Linked DNA regions of Homo sapiens. The protein of the gene in region 2 purifies or fractionates together with the protein of the main gene of each other region. This does not show direct contact. Each region holds a gene or a part of one and is shown on either strand. Other genes may lie near its edges. The genes, in order: SIRT1, MTA1, CHD3 and ZNF512B.

Evidence for each region.
Region 1: the proteins of MTA1 (region 2) and SIRT1 purify together in Homo sapiens (affinity purification with mass spectrometry; 4 studies listed by BioGRID and IntAct, with this or other methods). This does not show direct contact.
Region 3: the proteins of MTA1 (region 2) and CHD3 purify together in Homo sapiens (affinity purification with western blotting; 7 studies listed by BioGRID and IntAct, with this or other methods). This does not show direct contact.
Region 4: the proteins of MTA1 (region 2) and ZNF512B purify together in Homo sapiens (affinity purification with mass spectrometry; 4 studies listed by BioGRID and IntAct, with this or other methods). This does not show direct contact.

The regions. Positions count from the first base shown.
Region 1 is NC_000010.11:67,880,757-67,887,655, reverse strand, and holds the start of SIRT1 (NAD-dependent protein deacetylase sirtuin-1), read right to left. Parts: upstream 3,001-6,899; 5' UTR 2,935-3,000; coding exon 2,505-2,934; intron 2,476-2,504; exon of another isoform or gene 2,257-2,475; intron 240-2,256; coding exon 123-239; intron 1-122. UniProt on the Homo sapiens protein: NAD-dependent protein deacetylase that links transcriptional regulation directly to intracellular energetics and participates in the coordination of several separated cellular functions such as cell cycle, response to DNA damage, metabolism, apoptosis and autophagy.
Region 2 is NC_000014.9:105,443,805-105,450,843, reverse strand, and holds part of MTA1 (metastasis-associated protein MTA1), read right to left. Parts: intron 5,427-7,039; coding exon 5,333-5,426; intron 1,486-5,332; coding exon 1,435-1,485; intron 787-1,434; coding exon 660-786; intron 584-659; coding exon 520-583; intron 1-519. UniProt on the Homo sapiens protein: Transcriptional coregulator which can act as both a transcriptional corepressor and coactivator. Acts as a component of the histone deacetylase NuRD complex which participates in the remodeling of chromatin.
Region 3 is NC_000017.11:7,883,928-7,891,794, forward strand, and holds the start of CHD3 (chromodomain-helicase-DNA-binding protein 3), read left to right. Parts: upstream 1-4,861; 5' UTR 4,862-4,895; coding exon of another isoform or gene 4,896-4,938; 5' UTR 4,939-5,073; coding exon 5,074-5,173; intron 5,174-5,736; coding exon 5,737-5,849; intron 5,850-6,643; coding exon 6,644-6,814; intron 6,815-7,012; coding exon 7,013-7,137; intron 7,138-7,867.
Region 4 is NC_000020.11:63,956,165-63,959,930, reverse strand, and holds the end of ZNF512B (zinc finger protein 512B), read left to right. Parts: coding exon 1-43; 3' UTR 44-3,227; downstream 3,228-3,766. Other genes in the region: UCKL1 (uridine-cytidine kinase-like 1), read left to right, coding at 3,559-3,671. UniProt on the Homo sapiens protein: Involved in transcriptional regulation by repressing gene expression. Associates with the nucleosome remodeling and histone deacetylase (NuRD) complex, which promotes transcriptional repression by histone deacetylation and nucleosome remodeling.

The DNA.
Region 1 (6,899 bases), on a different chromosome or scaffold from region 2:
ACGGTGAGCCGAGATCGCGCCATTGCACTCCAGCCTCCGCAACAAGAGCGAAACTCTGTCTCAAAACAAACAAACCAAAAACCGTACATTTACTCTCTAAAATTAACAGCTCTGAGCCATACCTATCCGTGGCCTTGGAGTCCAGTCACTAGAGCTTGCATGTGAGGCTCTATCCTCCTCATCACTTTCACAGGAATGAAAACCATTAGTGATAATTTCATCACCGAACAGAAGGTTATCTGCAAAAGAAACCAAGTCAGTCAAGGCTATCAAAACAACATGCACCTAAAATGTATGAACGGTTATAGAGCAATCATTTTCATCGAGTACAGCATTTAACATTTACACGGCGTGTGTAAAGCATGCCTATGGGGTCAGCTTGCACTGTTCATTGGAACAGTTTCTTCATCTTTAGGAATTCTGCTCACTCAGTTTCAGCCAAAATCTAAAAATAAATTAAGTCTACTTAAAAAACAGAAAAGATAGCCGGGAGCGGTGGCTCACGCCTCTAATTCCAGAGCTTTGGGAGGCCGAGGCAGGCGGATCACCTGAGGTTGAGAATTCGAGACCAGCCTGACCAACATGGAGAAATCTCGTCTCTACTAATAATACAAAAATTAGCCGGGCATGGTGGCGCATGCCTGTAATCCCAACTACTCAGGAGGCTGAGGCACGAGAATGGCTTGAACCCGGGAAGCGGAGGTTGCGGTGAGCCGAGATCACGCCATTGCACTCCAGCTTGGGTAACAAGAGCGAAACTCCACCTTTTAAAAAAAAAGAAAAGGAAAAAAAAAAAGAAAAGATAATAATCTAGCTAGAATGTATCATACAATCACAAACAATAGCGTTCGTGAAACGTGTAATAAATGGACATTTACATAAAAACGTCATTCAAATATAACCTTGGCAATGCGCACGTTAAACTTACACAATACTACAAGTACCTCTGCATTGTTTCCTCTATTAAATAAACAGTATTAATAACACAATTATTATTAGGTAAATAATAAATTAGTACTCAACTGTGTTGCTTGAAATCAGGGTCTCTTTACTAAATCAGTCCCTAAAAACACATATTACTTTTTTTTTTTTTTTTTTTTGAGACGGGGTCTCACTCTGTTGCCCACCCTGGAGTGCAGTGGCAGGATCACAGCTCACTGCAACCTCGAACTCTAGTACCTGGGACTAAAGGTGTGCGACACCACGTCCCGCTTTTTTTACTTTTAGTAGAGAGGAGGTCTCGCTATGTTGCCCAGGCTGGCCTGAAACTCCTAGGCTCAAGAGATCCTCCCGCTTTGGCCTCCCAAAGTGCTAGGATTACACGAAAGAGCCACCGCGCCCGGCCTGACCCAAATATTGATAAAGATGAACACCTATCAAGGATAGAAACTCCTCAGATCAAAAATAAGAAACCTGACCGGGCGCGGTGGCTCACGCCTGTAATCCCAGCACTTTGGGCGGCCGAGGCGGACGGATCACGAAGTCAAGAAATCAAGACCATCCTGGCCAACATGGTGAAACCCCGTCTCTGCTAAAAACACAAAAATTAGCTGGGCGTGGTGGCGGGTGTCTGTAGTCCCAGCTACTCGGCAGGCTGAAGGAGAATCGGTTGAACGCGGGAGGCGGAGGTTGCACTGAGCCGAGATCGCGCCACTGCACTCCAGCCTAGCGACAGAGCGAGACTCCGTCTCAAAAAAAAAAAAAAAAAAAAAAAGAAACCTTCAAGAACATGACAACTGCAACATATCTGCTTCATTATGCTAGAAGTGTTAAGTTTGTGTCTCAATACTACATACATACAAAAAAAGCATGTTTAGCCCAAACACCATTACCGCACAAGAGCAAGATTAGAATAAAAGTAATATGAACAGCTCTAAAAGTACTCTCTCTCCCATACCCACTCCTAACTGCATTACAGAATGGTAATGTCTTCAGGAACAGCCACGTTCTTTAAATTTTGCAAGCTGTGACTATAGAAACAGCTTTCCTCTTTCAAAAATTGTAATTTCAGTCATAAAAATATAGACCAAAAAAAGCAAACTGCACAGGTGTCAAGTTTGCAAAAAGCAATTGAAAACGCAGACCAACGGGACAGCCAAAAAGTTGCAGACTTAAGTGTGCTGGGGGGTAGAGGAGAAAAGCAATGAAAATAAAAAATAAAGAAAAAGAAAAAAAAAGCTCTAACAAAAGCAATATGCTAAAAGAGTAAGAGGGGGAGAGAAACTTATTTTAAAGCGACTGCGAGAGTCTCCCGACCTGGCTGCTGCGGAAAGAACAAGGCCGCCCAGGCGGGCCACGGACGGAGGAAAAGAGCGAATCCACTGGCAGCTCGCGCAGTAGGAACCGCAGCCCCGGAGGAGCGCGGCTGAACGGAGGGCCGGGGTGGGGAGGGGAACGCCGCGGAGCCTGCCCCGAGCCCCCAGCCGCCCTCAACCTCAGGCCAGTAGGAGCCCGGGGAGAGGGAGGAGGAGATGCGCAGTTCCGGCCGCCCGCACCCTGCGCACCTCGGTACCCAATCGCCGCCGCCGCCGCCTCTTCCTCCTCCTCGCCCTCGTCGTCGTCGTCTTCGTCGTACAAGTTGTCGGCCAGCGGTGGCTCCCGAGATGGGCCCTGCAGGCCCGGCCCATTGTCTCCTTCCCCAGCCGCCGCAGTCGCCTGGGCCTCTTGCTCCCCGCCTGCCGCCGCCGCCTCTGCCTCCGCCTCCCGCCACAGCGCCGCCGCCGCCGCACCCGGGCAGCCCCTGGCCGCCGCCGGCACCTCACGCTCTGGGGCCGCCCCACCGGGCTCGCCCGGGCTCCGCTCGAGGCCGGGACCATCTCTCCGCGGCCTCTTGCGGAGCGGCTCCCCGGCGGGGGACGACGCGGCCTCCCTGTCGGCCCCCGCCGCCGAGGGGGAGCCGCCGGGCTGAAGGGCGAGGGCCGCCTCGTCCGCCATCTTCCAACTGCCTCTCTGGCCCTCCTCCCTCGCCTCCTCTGCTCCCGCTCGACGCGCGGCACTGGCGCCCCCGCGGCTCCGGCTGCGGGAGATTTAAACCCCATCACGTGACCCGCCCCATCGCCGCCCCCGCCCTCTCGGCGCTCCCGCCACCCACGCGGGCCAGACCACAACACTACGGGTCACGTGGCGGGCGGAGGCTGTTGCGTCTACCGCTCCGCCTGGGCTGGAAGCGCACTCGGCCCCGGCGGCCGGCGGCCCTTCCTCTTTGTGGCGAGCGTGTAGTGCAGCCAAATTCGCCCCTCGGCCGCTTTCTCAACTTCTCTTTCAAACTGACCTCAAATCACTACCGCCGGAACAGCTCAAGTTTTGGTCCGCCCTGGGAATTTCCACGTCTTCCTGAAGTGTACACCTGGCCTGCCTTAGCCTTGTCTATATTTAGCTAAGGGTTAAAACACAGCTGAAGCTGGCTAAGACTTAGCTCCCTGAAATACGTTGGATAGTCGTTCTGTTTTGTTAATAAGTAGGAAGAGAGGCAAAAGGAGGCGGCTCCTTTCCCACTCTCCTCACACCGTTCTGACAGCTCCTCTTTTGCTCCTTTTTCTGCTCCTTGCTTTTCTCCTTAGTCGGTTGCTTTTTTCCCCTCTCTCCCATCACTTGTAGGGTGGTATACATTGTAAAATCCTTGAAGGCATATGTCCTCCTGGGAAGACCTTTGACGTGGAGGTTTGGAGATCAGCCGATCTACTTTCTGGCCCCAGCTTGGCTTCAAACGTGTGTGAATTCCCTCCTCCGGGCCTCAGTTTTCTCACGTGCAGAATGGGTTTGTTGGGTCAGTATGAGAGCATGGGAAGGAAATGACTTGGCCTCCATGCACATCTGCCCTTGGTTAAAATTTGGAGTCCTTCCTTTCTAGCGTGAGCTATCTAGCCGTTTCTAAACTTAATTTTTCTCATGTCTTAAATGGTAATAAGTATTTTAAAACGTCATAGATTTAAATGAGATAACCAGATGTAAAACGAGGGGTACCTAGTAGTTCAAAAGGCTTAGTGGAAAGCCCTTCCACTTTCCTCTCTCCCTGAAATTCTGGCACACTGTGACTCCATATCTAATCTTAACTAAGGACCCATATAACCCATGGTAGATCTAGAGCCAGTGTTTGTTATGGCATCTGCCTGGAGCACAGCGTTTCTATCTGTTTAAAGGACCTCTACGAGTTTATGGTACACTGTCCCTTAAGCCTAGTATGGGTTCTGGCCATACTGCATCAATTACCTGCGTGACTTTAGGCAACCAACTTAAAGCTGTTTCTTCATCCTTAAAATAAAAAATAAAAAGCTGGAAATATATCGCTAAGGTCCTATCTACATCCAAAAGTCTTATTTCATCTGGTCACCACTATTCATTTCTGAAAGTAATCATCTCCAGTCCTAGAAGCCTTAAAACCATCTTTGGTTGCGTGGGGGTCAAGGGGAGGGAGAGCATTAGGACAAATAGCTAATGCATGCGGGACTTAAAACCTGGCTGGGCGCGGTGGCTGCTGCCTGTAATCCCAGCACTTTGGGAGGCCGAGGCGGACAGATCACCTGAAGTCGGAAGTTCGAGACCAGCCTGACCAACATGGAGAAACCCCGTCTCTACTAAAAATACAAAATTAGCCGGGCGTGGTGGCACATGCCTGTAATCCCAGCTACTCAGAAGGCTGAGGCAGGAGAATCGCTTGAACCCAGCAGGCAGAGGTTGCGGTGAGCCGAGATCGCACCATTGCACACCAGCCTGGGCAGCAAGAGCGAAACTCCGTCTCAAAAAAAAATATAAATAAAACCTAGATGAGGGGTTGATTGGTGCAGCAAACCACCATGGCTCACCTATAAGTATGTAACAAACCTACACATTCTGCACCTGTATCCTGGAACTTAAATTAAAAAAAAAATCTTTGAAGCGTTCCTTCATACCAATCCCTCTGAAATCCATCTGACCAATCAATGACCAAATCCTGTTGTCCTTCCTTTCTTGCTACACTCCTCCCAATTCCTGACTAGGCACCACACTCCTAGTGGTTGACATACTTGGTCCTCCCCACTTTCTGTCTTACACTACAAAATATTTCATAAATTGACTCTCAGCTACGTTGGTGGAATGCAATATATGAAATGTTGAGAGTCAGTATCCCAATAAAACAGAAACAAAATTCCCAGCTTTTTTGAGAAAAAGATGTCTGTAAGCTTATGAGCATCCTGTTGTTCATTAATTCATTTATATTTATAGTATATTATTGACACGTGAAGTTTATGAACTACAAGAAATGCTATGTGATCAATATTATTGTTAGTATGCTGAGAGGTCAGAGATGCAGTATGCTTTTCAGGTAGGATAAATGAGAAACAGAAATTGTATTACAACAAACACAAAAACAAAAAATCCCAATTAGACTTCTGGTCTACCACTGGTTAAGAACTAACATTAAGGCTAGGCGCTGTGGCTCACGCCTATAAATCCCAGCACTTTGGGAGGCCAAGGCGGGCGGATCACCTGATGTCAGGAGTTCGAGACCAGCCTGACCAGTATGATGTAACCCCGTCTCCACTAAAAATACAAAAATTAGCCCAGAGTGGTGGCATGCGCCTGTAATCCCAGCTACTCGGGAGGCTGAGACGGGAGAATCGCTTGAACTCAGGAGGTGGAGGTTGCAGTGACCTGAGACAGTGCCATTGCACTCCAGCCTGGGCAACAAGAGTGAAACTCTGTCTCAAAAAAAAAAAAAAAAAAAAAAGAACATTAATATTCTGGCTGACTTAGTAGTTCTATTCTCCTAAGTTAATAAATTGGCCTGCCAAGCACGGTGGCTGACGCCTGTAATCCCAGCACTTTGGGAGGTCGAGGCGGGTGGATCACGAGGTCAGGAGATCAAGACCATCCTGGCTAACACGGTGAAACCCCGTGTCTACTAAAAATACAAAAAATTAGCCGGGTGTGGTGGCGGGCGCCTGTAGTCCCAGCTACTCGGGAGGTTGAGGCAGGAGAATGGCGTGAACCCAGGAGGCGGAGCTTGCAGTGAGCCGGGATCGCGCCACTGCACTCTGGCCTGGGCGACAGAGTGAGACTCCATCGCAAAAAAAATAAAAATAAGAATAAATAAAAAATGAATAAATAAAAAAATAAATTGGCCTAATAGCTCTGATATCAGTCTCATGTGACTACAATTAGTAAGGGAGTTAGTATCAACTCTTTTGTACTAATAAAATGTTATTGTCAAAACTGAAAAACACAAATGGAAATCCCTACTTCACACAATATACGAAAATAAATTCCAGCCAGGCGCGGTGGCTCACTCCTGTAATCCCAGCACTTTGGGAGGCTGAGGGGGGGCAGATCACCTGAAGTCGGGAGTTCAAGACCAGCCTGGCCAACATGGACAAACTACTACTGACTCTACTAAAAAATAAATTAGCCAGGTGTGGTGGCACATTCCTGTAATCCCAACTACTTGGGAGGCTGAGGGAGGAGAATTGCTTGAACCTGGGAGGCGGAGATTGCAGTGAGCCGAGATTGCACCATTGCACTCCAGCCAGGGCAACAAGAGCAAAACTTCATCTCAAAAATATAAAAAATTAAAAATTCCAGATGGATTGAAGATCTAAATGAAAAAATACAAAAATAAAAATATGACATTTTAGAATATTTATAACTTTGGATCAAGAAAGAACTTTTTAGCAAGGCAGGAGCCATTTTTTAAATGATAAAAATATTTGACAATATAAAAATTTAAAATATGCTCAAACCTATTAGTAGTCAGGGATACGTAGTGAAAAAATGTCCTAGCCAAGTACAATGGCTCATACCTATAATCCCAGCACTTTAGGAAGCTGAGGTGGAAGGATGGCTTGAGACCAAGAATTTGAGATCAGCCTGGGCCACACAGTGAGACCTCATCTCTCCAAAACCTTTAAAAATTAGTCCAGCAT
Region 2 (7,039 bases):
GTATGGCATTGTCGGGACACATTTTTTGGTTGTCACGCCTTGGGGGATGCTATACGGCAGGTTAACACCGTATAATCACAGGTGACCCCCAGATAAGAATCACCTGGTAACACCGTATAATCACAGTGACCCCCAAGGTGGGCCTACCAGGACTCTGCCCACCGCCCAGGAGAGACCAGCCAAGACTCCTGCGAAGACTCAGGTGGCCCCTGCCCCCACCTGCCTCAGCCACACCCTCCCCAGGGGGACCTCCCCTCGCTGGCTGTCTGGGTGGCAGTGGCAAGAGGAAAGAGCTCCAAGCTCCTGGCCCACAACTCTGGACGCGTAGGGTGGGGGCGGCCACACACCAGGACACCTGGAAGTGACAGTCAGGACGCAATCCCCGCTTCCCCCCAGAACAGCCTGGGCCTAGAGGGAGGAGGGAAAATCGTCTCCGCCGCCCAGGCCAGCAGAGGTCATAGGTAGAGGAAACAGTGGCCCGGGACTGGCTGCGGCAGACCAGGCCGGGCTGGGCCTCACCTCCCGCTCCAGGTAGGACTTGAGCGACTCGGTCTCGTTGAGCAGGGTGACGCTGCACTTGCCCCTGGAAGAGAAGGACGGGCAGGCTGGAAAGGCGAGGGCAGCCCGAGGGGCCCAGGGCGGGAGCTGCTGGGGGCTACCTGATGTGCGTGGCGGGCAGAGACTCCAGCTGCCGGGAGAGGAACAGCTCCCGATGCCGCAGCTGGTGCTTTAGTTTCTCGGGCAGGTCCACCATTTCCGGGTTCTCCATTTCCTCTTCTATTTCCCCTGAAGGACAAGGAGCCCCTGTCAGCACCGCGGCAGACGCACACTGCCAGACCAAGGCCCACCCCACCAGCCCCACCTGGCGCCAGCACGCAGGAGGCCCAGTCCTGGGAGGCGTGCCTCCTCCTGCTGCCGGACACTGTCCCACTGCCCCACCCTATGGCGGCCCGGCGGCTCCTTGGCAGGTACCCCTGCAGACACTCTGGTGCCCACGTGCCCTTTAAGTCCAGGCACCCTAAAGGCCCAGACTCCCCAGGGCATGAAGATGGAAGGAGGAGGGAGAACAAGGTCCGGGCCAGCCCCAGAAGCAGCAGGCAAGAGCAAGAGGAGCGGGGGAGTCGGCGGCTGCCAAGAGCCCAGGCCAGGAGGGCGAGGGGCAGCCGCCCTCTGTCCGTCCCCATCTCGTGGCCAGACAGCCCCATACAGCCCACCACAGACCTCCCACACCAGCAGGTCACCCTCAGGCCGGGGCCGCACCAAGCCTGGGCCGTGGGCCGGACACAAGGGAGGGCCCCTCCTCAGCCGGGCCGGCCGGGCGCAGGGCACAGGCATGCAGGCGGCCCGCCCAAACTCTGTCCCTCAGCGGCGCTGCCGCCCCCAGCCCAGGGACACAGACAGGAGGACGCCCTCCTTGCGGAGGCCGGCTCTTACCTTCCTCGCCGTTGTCCGCCCCCGGTCCGGCCTTATAGCAGACTGACAGGGCTATATAACAGACAGACAGCACCCGGCAGCACGGTCAGCACAGGGTGGCGGCCTGCTCCCTGCCCAGGGCCCGGACCGAGGGCTGTGCCGCCAGGGGGCAGGGCAGAACGGGGGCCGCAGGCCTCCCGGTGGGGCGTGAAGACCACCCGGTTGAAGATCATCTGGGCCTCGACGTCCCCCCACTCTGGCTGCCCATCCACCCAGTGCCAAGCCTCTTTGGGAAGAGCCCAGACAAGCCTGGCTGTGGAGGGCCCCTGTCCAGAGGCCACCCCTGCCCCCACTCCACTGGGGCTTCCCAGAACAGGCTGTCCAGATGAGACCGGGGCCGGGCACCGGCCAGCAGCATGGGGATTCCTGCCCTGTGCTAGGAACCCAAGTAGGGTTCTTATAACACCCAAAATGGGGGCGTGCAGTGGTGCTCCCCACCGCCCCTCGCACGCTCAGCACCGGCCGCCAGTGGGCCACTCATCCCGCTCAGCGCCCTGCCGGCTCTCTGAGCCCAAGGTCCCCAGATGGGACCACAGCCAGCCGGGCTGCTCGCTCTCTGCGGCCCCCTTGTGGTGCCTGCAGGAAGTCCTGGCTCCTCTGGGCCCTCCCAGGCGCCAACAGCTAAGACTGAGGCTGGGAGCAGCCATGCTGGGCCTGTTCTGGGCCGGCCCTATCTGGGCCTCAAAAGCCTGGGGTGTCTGGCGGCTGAGCCTCACCTCCTCCCGGTCCATAGAACAGGGCAGGGCCGACCAGGACAGCCCCAGTCCTCTCATCCCAGGCCAACACATCTCACTCGCTCCCACTTCTGGGGACCCACGAGCAAACTGCACCCTGAACTCAGACATCACCAGGGCCCAGAGGCCCACACACCAGCCCCAGACCAGAGGCTGGCTTTTGTTCACGCCCGCCCTATGCCAGGCCCCATCCGAGCACTGACCCAGCCTGGACAGGAGCCCACAGCGGCTCCGAAACTCCCATTTCACCAGCGTCCCGGTCAGCAGAACAGGGCTCTGTGGTGCAGCCTGTCGGAGATGCGGGCGAGGTGGGCCTACAGCTCCTCAGAAGACCCTCAACAGGCAGAAACACCCAGGCAGGAGGTGGGGCTGGCTAGTGTACCCTGCACCCCTCACACTCTGAACCCTCCCTCAGACCCTGGATACACCCCTAAGCGTGAGGCCCAGGCTGTGCCCTCACTCCCACTCTTGGCTGTGGTCTCCAGGGCCCCCACGCCCTCCTCTGAGGAGGGACGTTCCCCTCTCCCTGTCATTCTGTCCTGAGAAAGGCTTCATGCTCACAGCCCTGCCGGGGGGAGGGCTTCTCTGCCACAGGGGCCACAGTGCAGCCTGGCGGGTGTCTACCCTCCACCCTGAGGCCTGCACTGTGGGCTGGACGCCCCAGCAGGGGCTGGGTGGAGGCAGTGACGTGGGAGAGCCAGAGGCCTCCCAGAGTGTCCTCACACCTGTCCCTGGGATCAGCTGGGGGCCTCACCCTGGCTGCCATGAGCTCACAGAGAAGCAGGAGAAACGGAGATTGACACAACCCCGGGGGGTGTGGGCCCTGCAGAATCACCGCAAGGCCCAGCCGCCAGGCAAGAGTGGGGCCGCGCTCTGAGTCCCTGGACCAGCGGCAGACCCATCACCCATGACGCCTGCTCCCTGCAGCTGGGCTCTCAGTTCATAGGAACGCCCTGCAGAGGGGCCGCCACGCAGCTTTCCAGGGAGCACCGTCCAAAGGGGCTGTGCTGTGTACCTGGGGGGGCCAGTGCTCGAGCTGGGACACTGCTCTCCACCCAGTCCTATCAGCCCCAACGAGGCCCTTCTGGAAAACCTGCCCTCTGATACCTCTAATCACGTTATGTCTGGAGTCCCCTTCTGGGGCTCTTCCAGCAAAAGGCCATCCTCTGGGGCGTCTGAGAGCAGAACCTCAGCCAAGGGGGCCACAGTACCCTCAAAAACCACTAAACCACTGATACAGGCTCTCTGGAGCAGGGACACTGTGCCCCCAGGTGCCAGAGGACAGAGACAGGATCCACCCTGGGCCAGCCATAAACATGCCCAACTCAACGGTGGCGCCTGACTCCCCAGGCCACACAGACTGGCAGGGCCACACTGCGGCCGCTCAGCCTGGGCACTGCTTCTCCAGCGGGCCAGCCCGCTCCCCACCACTGCTTCTCCAGCGAGCCAGGCCGCTCCCCACCACTGCTTCTCCAGCGGGCCAGCCCTGCAGAGTCGACATAGGCCAGCCTCCAACACTAAGAACCGCCAGCCGTGCTGCTGACTGGCACCCAGCACCTGCAGGGCCAAGGGCCACACCAAACACCCCTCCAGAATGTGTAGCCTGTGGACCTTCAACATCCCCAGCTCTCCTCCTTGGTGCCTGGAGCCCGCCGAGTGCAGCAGTGGAGTACACAGGCTTTGGGGTCAGAGGTCAAGGATCACCATGCCCCACCTTGAACGCTCCCCTCCTCTGAGCAGAGAGCTAGGAGGTCCAGTTCCTCACAAAGCCAGAGAAAGCCCATGGTCAACTGGCAGCTCCCTTTGGGCCAGCCACAGGCCCCACAGCCCAGTGTCCAGAGTGGACCCAGGCTCGGGGGCCCGGCCCAGCTGCACTGACCCAGGGCAGCTCACGTCCGCATCCACTGGTTGCTGAGGAAAGGTCCCAGCTGTCCGGTGGGCAAGGCAGTGGGGTTAAGGGACACCTTCCTTCCACAAGCGCCTGCCCTGGCCGACTCCCAGCAAAGGCTCAGGAACAAGGCATCGGTGGCAGGATGGTCTGTCCTGTCCCTAAGCCCCTCCCAGAGCAGGGGGAGGTTGCCTGGGCTGACTTCCTGCCCCTCACCCACAGCGCTGGGACGGGGCAGAAGATGCGAGGGTCCTCCCACCCGACCCACCGCAAACCCACAGTCCCTGGACCTCACCCCATTAGGGGTCGTGGGAGGTTACAGGTGGGACCTTGGCCCACCCCAGCGACACGGGTACCCGGGCAGTCACATGCCTCACCTACTGGGAAATGTCACCCTACAGACCACAGCCTCAGCCTGGGCTCAGATCCCACCCCAGGTGATGTGTCAGAGTGGAAGCCAAAAATGCCCCTCATGCCTGCCCCCACCGACACATGAAGGGCCTCAGTGGGGTACCACACTGTGTCTGGTGCAGGTGGGGCCCAGCTCGGCAGGCCCTGTGTCAGTAGCATGTGGAGGGCGTGGGGGTGCCTCTGGCTCCTGGCTCTGAAGTCAACATCCCCCGGCACAGGAGACTCCACCACCTGCGAGCACCTGTTCCCGGGGGAGAAGCTGGGTCCCCAAGGCTGAGGGCATTCCCATGCAGCCAGTGGCTTCCTCCCACACGCTGTGCTGGCCACAGCAGCCCCTCCCAGCCAGGTTACTAAACTTGGGTTTGAATCGTAAAGAATAAGGAGAGGACTGCTTTCCTGAAAACACTACTCAGAATCCCAACAGAAGCCTCTCCGCAAAATTAAAAAGAGAGAGACATTGGCAAGTGCAGGCAGCAGGGTCCCACCAGCCTGGAAAGTCTCCAGAAGTCATCATAGAAGGGAAAAAGAAGCCTCGATCAATGATGCCCACACCCAGCCACACCATGACAAGCTTGCAGAGGATGCCAGTGAGAGACAGACCACTCCGGGGGGCGTGCGAGGACTTCATTCACCCAGCCCCCGAGGAAACGGAGCCAGGACACCCCCGCCCACTGTGGAAGGGAGAAAAAGAGACGCCAGAGTGAGTTGGGCAGAGGGTGGCCCCACGAGGCCAGGATGCCGATGGGCCCTAGGGAAGAAGGACCCCGCCAGCCCTCCCCAGCCGACCCTCCCGCCAGGCGGGCACCCCAGGGAAGGCCGGACTCACTTGCGTGCTTGTCGGCCAGGGCGATGAGGGTGCTGGAGATGTCCCGCCTCCGGTAGAAGCACACCACTTTGGCCTCCACGTTCCCATTGGCCGTCTGTAACAGCAAGGCAGGGGCGTCTGAGAAACGCGACCAAACCCGGGCTGCACAGCTCCCAGGAGGGGCTCCAAGGCCGGACCCTGCCGTCCAGGGACTGCAGGTGTAACCACACCACCCCTCGGGACTCCAGGAGGGCACTTCACAAATGGAGCAAATCCTGCAGCTCTGGACGCCCGTGGCGTCTATCCCAGGGGAGAAGGCGGGCGTGTGCACCCAACCTCAACCTGTGTCTCCATTCTCCCTCCCTTCCAGACCCCAGTGTACCACCTGAGAACAGCAGGGTCCCAAGGAGGAAAAGGCCCCCGCCACACTGGGTAGGACCTCAGTCAGCTCCTGGGAGGCCACGCCCAGCTATCCCAGCCCCTCTGGGGTGACCTGCACAGCAGCCACGGCCCTAGCGGCGGACGCAGCCTGGACCCCCCGCATGGGACCAGCCCTCCCACCTGGCCTGGCTGACAAACGTCTCCAAGTCAAGACGGCTGTAAAACGCCACCAGAGAAGCACGTATGTTTTCTGAACGAGTTTTTATAACATCTTTGCTACTGCAAGAATTGTGCTGTAATTCTAATCACAGTGCAAGTGCCTAATGGAATACTATTTATAACTCTTTTTTTTTTTTTTTTTAAGATGGGGTCTCACTCTGTCGCCCAGGCTGGAGTGCAGTGTTGTGATCTTGGCTCACTGCAACCTCTGCCTCCTGGGTTCAAGTGATTCTCCTGCCTCAGCCTCCCAGGTAGCTGAGATTACAAGCGTGAGCCACCACGACCAGCTAATTTTTGTATTTTCAGTAGAGACAGGGTTTTGCCATGTTGGCCAGGCTGGTCTGGAACCCCTGACCTCAAGCAATCTGCCTGCCTCAGCCCCACAAAGTGCTGGGATTACAGGTGTAAACAGCACCCAGCCTCACCTAACTTTTTAATTTTTTGAGATAGGGTCTCACTCTGTTGCCCAGACTAGAATGCAGCAGTGTGATGTCAGGTCACTGCAGCCTCCATCTCCCAGGACCACAGTCCAATTACACCATGCCTGGCTTTTTTTTTGAGACAGAGTCTTGCTCTGTCGCCCAGGCTGGAGTGCAGTGGTGCAATCTCGGCTCACTGCAAGCTCCGCCTCCTGGGTTCACGCCATTCTCCTGCCTCAGCCTCCCGAGTAGCTGGGACTACAGGCGCCCACCACCACGCCCGGCTAATTTTTTTGTATTTTTTAGTAGAGACTGGGTTTCACCGTGTTAGCCAGGATGGCCTCGATCTCCTGACCTCGTGATCCGCCCGTCTTGGTCTCTCAAAGTGCTGGGGTTACAGGCGTGAGCCACCGCACCCGGCCTTTTTAGATGGAGTCTCACTCTGTCGCCCAGGCTGGAGGGCAGTGGTGCGATCTCAGCTCACTGCAACCTCCACCTCCCGGGTTCAAGCGATTCTCCTGCCTCAGCCTCCTGAGTAGCTGGAACTATAGGCACCCACCACCACACCGGCTCATTTTTGTATTTTTAGTAGAGACGGGGTTTTACCATGTTGGCCAGGATGGTCTCTATCTCCTGACCTCGTGACCCACCCGCCTCAGCCTCCCAAAGTGCTGGGATTACAGGCATGAGCCACCGCACCCAGCCAACC
Region 3 (7,867 bases), on a different chromosome or scaffold from region 2:
AACTAGTTAACCTTTAACAATTTATGCTGATGTCAGACTGAGCATGAGTACTGATTAATGCCCCCCCTCAAATATTTTTTATAAGGGGGGAGTTAGTCACAGCAGCCATTTTTGTTTTATGCAGAAATCCTTCATGCCCCCCCAACACACACACACACACACACACACTTCAGTACACAAGGAAAATATCTCTATTAATCTGTGCACTAATCAGTTATGAAAAAGGAGAAATTTGTGGGTTTCTGGGTAAAGGCTTGGAGATGGGGGTGTAACAGGGAGGAGAATGGGGGGGTGAAAAATGAAATATTAAGCCAGCCATTTTGTTTGAAAAGGGGATTTTCCCCCCTCTCCCTTTCTTTATGGAGGGGGTGGCGGTGCTGGAGGGGGGGTTGTTTTAAAAATAATTTCAAGGCGGCCATCTTAGTGCCTCAGCTCTGAGAAATATTTCTGAGCGCCCCCCTCAGAATTTAAATATATTTAAAGCAACGGAGAGGGGGGCAGAGAGAAGTCGAAAACTTTTATATATATACATATATATATATATATATATGTATATATATATATATTTTAAATCCCCCTTTCTTGTTCTCTTGGGAGGAAAGAGAGAAGGAAAAAAAGTCTTTCCTCAATTTTTTCCAAGACAATTTTTGGGGGTGGTTTGGCCCCCCTCCTCAGACGGCGGCCCCGAGGGTGGGGGTTTCGGAGGGGGGTGGCCCGGGGGTTTGGGGGGCTGGGGGAGGCGGTGAGGAGGAGGAGGACGCCGCCGCCGAGGAGGAGGAGGAGGAGGAGGAGGAGGAGGAGGAGGAGGTGGTGGTGGTAGCGGTGGGGGAGGCGGGCGGGCGGTGGGTGGGGGGGTGGTGGGGGGGCCAGAGCCACAGGATGGCTTCCCCTCTGAGGGACGAGGAGGAGGAGGAGGAGGAGATGGTGGTGTCGGAGGAGGAAGAAGAGGAGGAAGAAGAGGGCGACGAGGAGGAGGAGGAGGAGGTGGAGGCGGCCGACGAGGACGATGAGGAGGACGACGACGAGGGAGTACTCGGGCGCGGGCCGGGCCACGACCGGGGCCGCGACCGCCACAGCCCCCCCGGCTGCCACCTCTTCCCGCCGCCGCCGCCGCCGCCGCCACCGCTGCCCCCGCCGCCGCCGCCCCCGCCGCCAGGTAAGCGCCCGCCCCGACTCCCCCCCCAAGCCCGAGTGGGAGCCGCGGGCGCGCGAAGCCGGGCGGGGGCGAGGCACCCACCGCGCGGCCGAGCCGAGGCGAATCCGGAGCGCGAATCCGGGGCTCGGGCCCGTGGCCCCGCGGCGGTCCGGGAGGTCGGGGCGGGCGGTGGCGGCTGCGACCGCGGGGCCAGGCCTCCTCCCCTCCCCCGCCGCACCCCTCCCCCGCCGCCGCCGCCGCCGCCGCCGCCGCCGCCGCCGCCACCCCGGCTGGAGAGCGCTGGGCGCGAGCTGCGCGCGCGGACCGGGCCACTCGGTCGCGGCTTTCGGGGGAGGAGGAGGAGGAGGTTTTTTTTTTACCCTCGGCGGGGAGGGGGTAGGCAGGAAACGGCCAAGGCGAAGCCAGGGCCCCCTCCCTGGCCGAGCGAGGGACCGCCGAGACCCTGGCGGCCGGACGGCGGCGTGGGGGAGGGGCACGTGGGGGAGGGGCGGCCGCGCGAGCGCCCCTCGGGCTCTGGCCCCGGTGGGGTTGGACCGAGGGAGAGTGGGGTTTCCCCGCACGGAGCAGCCGACGGGCCTGCCCCCTCCGCTCAGGACTTGGACAGGCAGAGTGGGGACGGTGTCCATCGGACCCCCCTCCACCCGCGGAGACTTAGGTGCCCGCCAACTGAGGGGCATGCGGTGGCACGCGAGGGAGGGGTCTTGTGAATGTTTGTGGGCTGCTGATGAGTAGGGGCAGGTGGTGGCCACAGTCCACGCAGACCACTTCCTGGAATAAGGCAGGAGCTCGTCCCCTCGCTCCCCCAGCCTGTGCAGGGACAGCAGTCCATTCGGATTGGGGAGCGGAGAGAAGAGTGTCTGGGGAACCAGATACCCCCGGCTCCACCCCCTTCATCTCGCCGGGGCTCTGGGCTCTTTTGTGTCAAGTGCGGTGGGGGGGGTCCCCCTCTTGACCCCGTCAGTCTGGGGTGGCCAAGCTGCCCAGCTGTGACTCTCACGTGGCTGCCATTCACTGTCACTCACTCTCTCGCTGAAACCACCCACTCCCTGAGCACGTTGGGGGGCGTGAACTGCCCACCCAGCTGTTCTGCAGCTTGACCATCACTCAGCACCCGTCCCCCGAGGTGACAAGTCACCCGGCGGCACTCTCTGGGCGGCGCTCTCCAGACCGCTGCGCCGCGTCAGGCGCCCAGCGGTGTCCCCCTCAGACCACCCTCCTAGTGGAGTGATTTCTAGTCTTCTTTGGGATAGGTGAGCATCTGGGTGTCCACACCCCCTGCTTGGGGAACAGCAGGGGGACCTCCGCACCCCCGGGCCTCTGGCTGCCATGCGGCACAAATGCACCAAACTTCAAAACGGCCAACTCCGGGCTCTTTGTAAAACTGTCATATTGATCCGTGTGGCTTCTGTGGCAAACGTTCCTGTCTAGCCGAGACGACCTTTGGGGGAGCGGGGGGTGCTTTCTTGTGGGTCGGGGAGGGATGTGTGTCTCCTGGAAACTGGATAAAGTCTCCCCGCCCCCCAAGCTTGTCTGAAAAAGGGTAAAGTTTTGAAAAAGTTCTCCCAGAGAGCCCCCTGCCTTGGCAGGAGGAGGAGGAATGAGGAGTTGTGGGGAGAGGGTGCCTTTGGGGTTGCCTCCGGCAGAGGCGCTGAAAAGAGGGAAAGAAAGGCCGTCAGGTCCTGCCAGGGGCTTGGCAGCGCTCACCTATTTGTATTGGGACTTGGAGTCTGGGGTGGGGTGGTGTGGGTCCCGGATCTGGGTACGTTGGGGAGAGAAGCGTGAAAGGATCCGAGGTTGAGATGGGTCTTTGTGTCAACCCGGCCTCCCCTTTCCCTCTTGGCTTTCTGAATAGACCAGAAGAGACGTCAGAGGCTGCTTACATTTTACAACTGAAATGAAAACCCACCTCCCCTCTCCCCCTGGGCAATTTTTATCTCCCTTTCAGCCCTCCAAGTCGAATGAGTGACCCAGATACACCCCCTCAGATGACTTTCGGAGGTAAAACTTCGGGAAATTATTTTTAGCACACTCATTATTTCTGTCTACCTAAGTGTGGGGAAAAGAACCCTCCTCTAAGGAAATTTGTTCAGGCTGCCCTCGCTCTTCCTTGTCTAGAGTATGCATTTGTGCACAGGAGAGATTTCCATTGTTTTCCATTCCGACTGCTTTGATTCTCACCATTTTGTTTTACATTCTTACTCAAGACCAATTTTATCCCTTCCCCCTCTCTCCAGTCTCCTTACATTGTTAAACGTTTAAAATAATAGCAGTCGTGTTGGTGGGGGAAGGGAGCAGGAAGCCAAAAACTCATTTCTTCTCCCTCCCCCTTCTGGCAAGTCGAGAGAAATAATATAACATAATATATAGATGTGATTCCTTGGGGGTGGGGGTGGGGAATGATTGTGGGTGGTGCGGAAAATTCTGGTAGTTTCTTTGCAAAAGGTCTGAAAATACAAACCCACCCCCTGCCTGCAGTACGCATGTGCAGCAGACCTATTATGGTGGTGCGTTGTGGGGGAGGGAGGGGAATTTGAGAAAAAATAAATATATGTGTGAGAGATTGATGGTGAGATTAGAAGAAGAGAGGGGCGGGCGGGAGGCGAGGCTTCGGCCGAGACTCCTCCCGCTTGCTCGGGCGGCCAGGCTCCGCCCTGCGCCCTCCGGCCCCCGCCTCTCTCCTCCCTGCCTCCCTGAGATCCGAGCCGGGGATGTGGGAGAGTCTGGGCTCCAGGCCAGCATTGAGTGGCTGCTGAGACCGAGGTTGGGACTTAGATTTGCTTTATTACCCTTCCTTGCTTTTCCTTGCCGTTCTCGCTTTGCCTCTCCCGCCACCGACGCCTGCCCAAGTTCGGGAACCTCCCGCTGGGGTGGGGAGTAGAGTGAACCGGCTTGTGCACCACCCCTGGCTGGTGGTGGCCGAGGCCGTGTCCCTGAACCTTAGCCAGTTGGCCTGCCCTTGCCACTGCCTCGGCAGCCTGCGTTTCCATGTTCAAGTCAACCGAAGTCCCTGGGGCCAGGGGGAGCCGGCTGCTGGGGCATGGCGCCTTCCTTGCTGACTTCCTATTACAGTCCCCATTCCGTTTCACACCCGGGCTCTGGCAGCCACCCCCCTGCACACACGCACACAGTCCTAGAGTGTCTTCCTGCACAAGGGGACACAGGATGCTGGAGTTAGCAGGAAAGGTGGCACTGAAGGAAGGCGAGGCAGCGACTCTGAGGCAGTGGAAACGGAGGCCTCTGGTGTTAATTGTGGCTAATTTTCCGTTGGCTGTTGAGGGAAGGAGAAAGGATTGTGTGTCCTAGAGCTAGGGGCTGGGCCAAGCCCAGGCTTTCCCATCTTGCATCGGCTGCCTCTCTCTGTACTAGACAGGTCTGGCTGGTTAGTCTAGTGCTTGGTAGGGGAGGGACGTGAACCAGAGCCCCAGGGCCCCAGGTCTGTGGGGCATCCTGTCTTCCTTTATGTGGGGTAACTCTCCGTTCCGTTCCCCAAGCCTTCACAGAGTGACACCTTCACAGATAATGGGGTGGGGGGCCTGGGGTCCTCTGGCAGAGACATCTGGGGAGAAAGCCAGGGACCTATCCCTGCTGAAGCAGGTACAGGCCATCCTCTGGATTTGTGGGCCTGAGAGTGTGTGTGGGTGTGGGTGCGCGCGTGCGCGCGCGTGCTTTTGAGAAGGCATATGCTGGGTGTGTCTGTCTGTGCCTATATCTTTGTTTGGGTCTCCCATACTGCGTATAGATGAATGGGTCAGGATATCTGGAACAAAATATGGAGGTGAAGGGTGAGATCGGGAAACAAAGGGTATGGCCCCCTAGTTCCCAAAGGGAGCAGGGAGATGGGAATAGAATTGAAGGTAGGTTTTAGGCTACTTGGGAGGAGGAATATTTAGGTAATTGTGGAGACTTTCTCCTGTGTGATGAAGGCGGCAGACACTGTGATCCTGTGGGCAAGAAGTAAAAATGACCAGCTGAGGATTTCTTTTCCTCCAGGACTGTGTTGGGGTGACAGGATGCCTGGTAATTATCCGAGGAAATGTAAATAGAGGCCTCCCTCTTGGCAAAAGGATGTCAGGGCCCCAGGGTGTTAGTGTGAGAACCCAGGTGTCCACCTTTGGCTCTCCCTCCCCAGCATCTGGCTTAGGGAGCTGCCAGCTTGTGTCTCCCCACTCCAAGTGCTGGGGTCAGGCCAGGCCAGCAGCTGGGCATGGCTTCCCCAGTTCCTGGGCAGGATGCCAGCTGGCGAAGTGAGGGGGAAGGCAGGAGGAGCCCTGGCGGTGACTGAAAGGACCTGCCACAGTCAGAGCCCATGGCCTGGAGCCTGGTCTCTTGTTAGTAGGAGGGGAGGGAGGGGAGTGGTTTGGCTGCTCTTCTCTTCTGACCCCTGACCTCCCATTCAGAACCAGAGCATCCCAGAGTACTCGAAACACTTTCTGTTTGCATCCAGTGAAGGGAGGCAGGGCTTGGAGGAGTTAATGCTTCCTAGAGAGTGGGAACTGCCGAGGTGGGGAAGGGGCAAGTTGAGGGGCCTCAGAGGCTGGAAACCTAGAGGCTTAGGTTTTCTGATGCTTTTTGCTTCAAAGATAAGGATGACATTCGGCTGCTGCCGTCAGCATTGGGTGTGAAGAAGAGAAAACGAGGACCCAAGAAGCAGAAGGAGAACAAGCCAGGAAAACCCCGAAAACGCAAGAAGCGTGTAAGTGTCAAGAATTCCTAACTCTGTGGCAAGGCTCAAGAGACCCATTCTCAGAGACCTACATTTTCTCTGGTCCTGATTACTGGTGTGGGGGTGGGGTTCTGAAGCCAGGGAGGCTTGATCCCCCGGGCCCCCCACTTCCCTGCCACTGTTGGCCTGTATCTCAGGGATCTGGGACCCTAACTTCATTCACTGCAACCTAGTGAAGAGCCTCGTTGTCAGTGTGTCCTCAGCAGCAAAGAGAAGCAGTTGAAAGCACAAGCTCTGGAAGACTGTATGAATTCAAGAGTCCAGCATTCCTCTGTCTAGGATACCAGGCCGTTTATTTGGCTCTCTGTGCCTTAGTTTCCTCATCTGTAAAAAGTAGATAAAGGCCGGTTGCAGTGGCTCACGCCTGTAATCCCAGCACTTTGGGAGGCTGAGCCGGGTAGATCATTTGAGGTCAGGAGTTCGCGACAAGCCTGGCCAATGTGGTGAAACTCCGTCTCTACTAAAAATACAAAAATCAGCCGGGCGCGGTGGTACGTCTGTAATCCCAGCTACACAGGAGGCTGAGGCAGGAGAATCGCTTGAACCCGGGAGGTGGAGGTTGCAGTGAGCCGAGATCACGTCAGTGCACTCCAGCATGGGTGACAGAGCAAGACTCCATCTCCAAAAAAAAAAAGGAGATAAAAAATTAGTTACTATCACAGGATTGTTGTGAAGATTAAAAGAGGTAAGATATGGTATGTGCTGAGAACAGTTTCTGGCAATGGTAGGGATGAATAAATGTTATTTTTATTTCTTTCTCTTAGGACAGTGAGGAGGAATTTGGTTCTGAGCGAGATGAGTACCGGGAGAAGTCAGAGAGTGGGGGCAGTGAATATGGAACCGGACCGGGTCGGAAACGAAGAAGGAAGCACCGAGAAAAAAAGGAGAAGAAGACAAAGCGGCGGAAAAAGGGGGAGGGAGATGGGGGGCAAAAGGTGAGTAGAATTAGGGAATGAGAGTGAGAAATCTGCATTAAAGACGGGCATGAGGAGGGGAGGAATGGAGACTGGACTGGAGAATGGGGCAAGAAGCAAGAAAGCCCAGGGAAGCTAGTGGGTAGGTAGACAGGCCTGTGTGCGGCCTGGAATAGGGGCTGGAGGAGCACCTACTTCACCAAAGCCCCTCTCCCGCAGCAAGTGGAACAGAAGTCATCAGCAACTCTGCTTCTGACCTGGGGCCTGGAGGATGTGGAGCATGTGTTCTCTGAGGAGGATTACCACACGCTCACCAACTACAAAGCCTTCAGCCAGTTCATGAGGTGCGGTAAGACTGGGGAATCCTCGCTAATTGACACTTTTAATTTGAGGGAGGTCCTGGACCCCTTGGAATCTGATGAAAGCTATGAAACTGCTCTCCAGAGAATTCACGGTGTATACACACCAAATTCTACACGTCATTTCAGGGAACTCCTAGACTCATAAGGATCCAAGAACCCCAGTTGAGAACTCTTCACTGAGGGGCGAGGGGTGGAGGGGCCATCATGATTCCAGTGCTGGGTTAGAGAACTCTTTAGCAACAGAATAAAGTGAGGACAGAATATAGTGAGCCCTCCCCTGCCCCAACAGCTCCATCTTCTGCTCTGTGACTTCTCTCTAGACTGGACCTGAGAGATACCATCAGTGTTCCTGAACTTCCTTAGCTCACTTAGCAGGTCCTGTGCCCCTTCCTTAGGCCCTGGTAATAATGGAGGGTCCACTGCTGGCAGTGGGACCTGAGCTTCAGTGGCTCCTGAAGAAAAGTAGAGAATAGTAGAGTAGAAAATAGCAGAGATGGGCCAGGTGCAGTGGCTCATGCCTGTAATCCAAGCACTTTGGGAGGCCAAGGCAGGTGGATCGCCTGAGGTCAGGAGTTCAGGACCAGCCCATCCAACATGGTGAAACCCCGTCTCTACTAAATACAAAAAAATTAGCTGGGCGTGGTGGCACATGCCTGTAATCCCAGCTACTCGGGAGGCTAAGGCAGGAGAATCGCTTGAACCCGGGAGGCAA
Region 4 (3,766 bases), on a different chromosome or scaffold from region 2:
CACCGGCCGGAAGGTGGGAGTCAGCAAGGCGCCTGAAAAGTGAGCATGGTGCGTGGGGCCTGGCCCCCATGCAGCCGCCACACCGCCCTCTGTTCAAGGCAGGGCCAGCTCCGGGACCTCTGTCCTCCAGTTCTCCATCCCCCACCCCCGCCTCTTCATCCGTCCAGTGGGGCAGCCAGCCACTCTCCCTTCCCTGAAGGTGGCCCTTCCCCTGTTAAGGCTGCCACAGGGCACACCTGGGTTGGGGCTCCCCAAGGTGTGCCCAGCAGAAGTGCAATAGCCAGGAGGGTTGCCCCTCCTCATGGGAATGTGTCTGGGGTCTTGGTGCCACAGGGGCTGCAGCGCAGAGTAGGCAGATGGCCTTTGGCCCCCCGGCTCCGCTTCCTCAGGCCCTGCCGGGTCCCTTCCCTGGCTACCCCAAGGCTCAGGCATCCCTGGTGACCTGTGGTTCTGGGCTGGTGAGGGCACCTGAGCAACCTGGCACGGGCAGCCACCATCCTGGCCTCACCTCCACCCAACACTGGAACTCCAGCACCCCCAGCTACCTCCCAGGACAGACCCCTGTCTGACCACTGCCATGCTGACCTGACAGGCTCCGGCCTGCCCTTGGCCACCCACTTGGTCCCCTTGCTTCTGTTTTCTACCTCTCCAGGCCTGCCCACTACCCCCACCCCTGCTCCTCCTTTGTCAGTGCGATCCCTGCTGTGCTCAGGCCCTGCCCCCCAGGCCTGTCTGTAATTCTCCCAGCTTGGGGCAAGGGAGGGGTTTTGCTTCTTGTACCTACAGGGCAGCAGAAGCTTGATGCCCTTCAACACAGCTGCCAGCCCTGGGGGTGTGGGGCCCCTGGAGTGTGCTCTCCTCCAGTGTTCAGCCTTCTGGCACTGCAGGCCTAGGTTGGAGCAGCCTCGTGGAGTAGGGACGGACTAGTTCGGGCCCTGGGGTCTTGCTGGGGCCCATAGGCATGTGGGGCAGGAAGCTGGGCAGAGCTGGCCTGGCTCTGAGTGGCCACTGGGGGAAAGGCAGCCTTCTGTCTGCCAATCTGGGTAGGCCCAGTGGCCAAGCTCTCATGGGAGCCCCCTCCCCACTTTTTTTTTTAACCTGCCCCCATTGTTTCTGGTTGTGTGGTCATTTGATATGGGAACTGAAGGCCAGCCAGGGGAGGGGCTTGGCCAAAGTCACAGCAGGTTGATGGCAGCTCCAGAGCTGTCTTTGCCCCTTTGTGGCCCTGAGGACGGCTGGGTCTATAGGTAGGGCAGGGGTCAGGCAGGGAGTCCAGGGTGCCTGGAAGAGGTGGCCACAGCCTGTGGCTCCCTCCCTGGGGTCCTGCCTTCCAACCACGGCATTGCAGGGAGGATGAGGCTCAGAGGGGGTAGGTTTGGAGGGAGGCCATTTTCCAGGGTGGGTGGGAGTGGGCTGAGGGCTCGGCCCCACTGACCCTGGACGATGAGAATTTTGATGTTTGCCCGTGTGCGTGTGTCTCCTGGGTGTAGTGGATGCCAGTCTTGTTGCTGTGACAAGTAACAACCTTTTTTTTAAATTGTTTTTTATACAAACACTCGCAATCCGACATTTGGTGCTAAGGGTTTCCTGGTGCAGACGGTGGGCCTGGGGGCTGGGCTGGACCAGGGCGTGGGTCTCTGGGGTTGGGGTCCCTTGCTGCTCAGGGAGGCAGTACTGACTGGGCACTGCCTCTGCCCCCAGCACCCACCCTCCCCCATTCCCCAGGGAGAAGGGGCCCCACTGGGCTTGGCCTGCAGTAGTAGGGAGACAAGTTCCAGGAGCACTTTGGGGACTGGGGTTGCAGAACACTTCCTGTCTCTGGCTTCATCCTTGGGCCAGAAGGCTCCAACCCTCAGCAGCCCTTGCCAGATGTGCCAGGGAGTGGGTGTGGAGACCCGGACTCCCCCCACCCACGCACACCTCGGCCTGATGAGAGGATGGAGGCTGGGGCAGAGATGGGCGTGACCCAGCGTCAGAGGGTCGGGGGAGGCATTCCTTCCTGTGTCCCAGAGCTTCACTGGTGGAGCTGGAGGAGCCGGAGGTGGAGGGTGGGGTCTGGCAGCTGCTGCTGGGGCAGCCTCATGAGGGGAGGGGAGGGGAGGGGAGGGGAGCAGGCACTGGGCGGGGGCCTAGGTGCACTTTGTCCTTGCCACCAATGGCGGGAGGAGGGTGGACCTGAACACCTGCAGGGTGTGGTGCCTGCCCCAGCCTCTCAGGTACTTGGCCCTTGGGGAGAAGAGAAGAGGGTCTGGTTTTTGCTGGGGGTGAGTTTCCGGGACACTCCCAAAGCCCACAGATAATCCCTGGTGTGGGAAGAGGAGTCCTGGATACCTTGATGTTTAGCACTTTAACCCCCTTTGTCTTTAAGGTAGGCGTGGGGGCTACTGCCAGAAGTGGCTGTTGGGTCTGACCCCCTCCTTTCTGCCCTCCCTCTGCCACATGCTGGTCCGCAGAGCCCTCCTCCCAAGGGGTGGGGCCCTGGGTGGAGCTCAGCAGGGTCTGCCCACTCCCTACGCTGGCCCACATAGGCCTCCAGGAGCCCTCAGTGAGAGGGACCAGCATAGCTGACCCCCAGAGTGTGGTGGGCGCCGGCCCTGCCCGAGGCCCAGTCGGGGCCCTTTCTGCAGATCTACCTCTGGCTCAGCGCACGCCCCCTGCCCTGAGAACAGGAAAGGGCCCGGAAGGGCTGACTCACCGGGCCGACGCTCACACGAAAATGGGATGCACTTTATTTGCTGGTGCAAAGGCAGGTGAGGGTGCCTCCTGTGTGACCGTTGGCCCTCCTGCCTGGTGGCGCTGAAGGGAAGGAGCCAGTGAGCCTGACCCCGGGAGGGGCCGTCCCCGTGTGCCGCGTTTGGCGGGGCCCCAGGCGGCTCCCCCAGGCCCGGGTCTGGGGCCCCAGGCTTTCCCCTGCCTCGCGGCCGGGCGTCCCGTGCTTTGGGTTTCTTGGTTTGGGTTTTTTAATGCCAGTTCTCAGTACATAAGTGCATTTTGAAAGAGGTTCCAGCTATCACTTGTAACCATATATATATACATATATATTCTATCTACAAAGTGTTTATTTGCGAGATGTTTCAACGGTGAGTTCGGGCCCCGCCCGCCTTGTGACCATCTGTCCCCGGTCCTCGTCCCCGCCCCGCGCCCTGGTCCCGAGTGGCGTGGGGACGGGCCATCACTGTATGTATTAAAATGACTGTATCAAATAAATGTTTATTGATTTTTTTCCAGGGTTTTTGTGCGGCTCAGTTTGTGGTGAAAAACAGGGGGCGGGGCCCTCCAGGCACGTGGCGGAGGCTGCCGAACTACGGGTCCCCCATGCCCGCCGCGCGGCCTTGTGGGGCTTGTAGTCCGCGACGCGCGGCCTTGTGGGGCTTGTAGTCCGCGACGCGCGGCCTTGTGGGGCTTGTAGTCCGCGACGCGCGGCCTTGTGGGGCTTGTAGTCCGCGACGCGCGGCCTTGTGGGGCTTGTAGTCCGCGGTGGGCAAGAGAGGGACCCGCCAGCTCCCGGCGGCCCATGCGCGCCGCCCGGCCAGGCCCGCAAAGAGGCCTCCGAGCGCCATGGCTGCGCCCCCGGCCCGCGCGGACGCTGATCCTTCGCCCACGTCGCCACCTACGGCCCGAGACACACCAGGCCGGCAGGCTGAGAAAAGCGAGACCGCGTGCGAGGACCGGTAGGCGTGGGCCTCGCCTCCACTCCACTGGCGAGCGGGAAGGGGCTGCAGATCCGGCCGAGCTGGGCGGGTGGTCCGTCCCCGCCGCGAGCCCA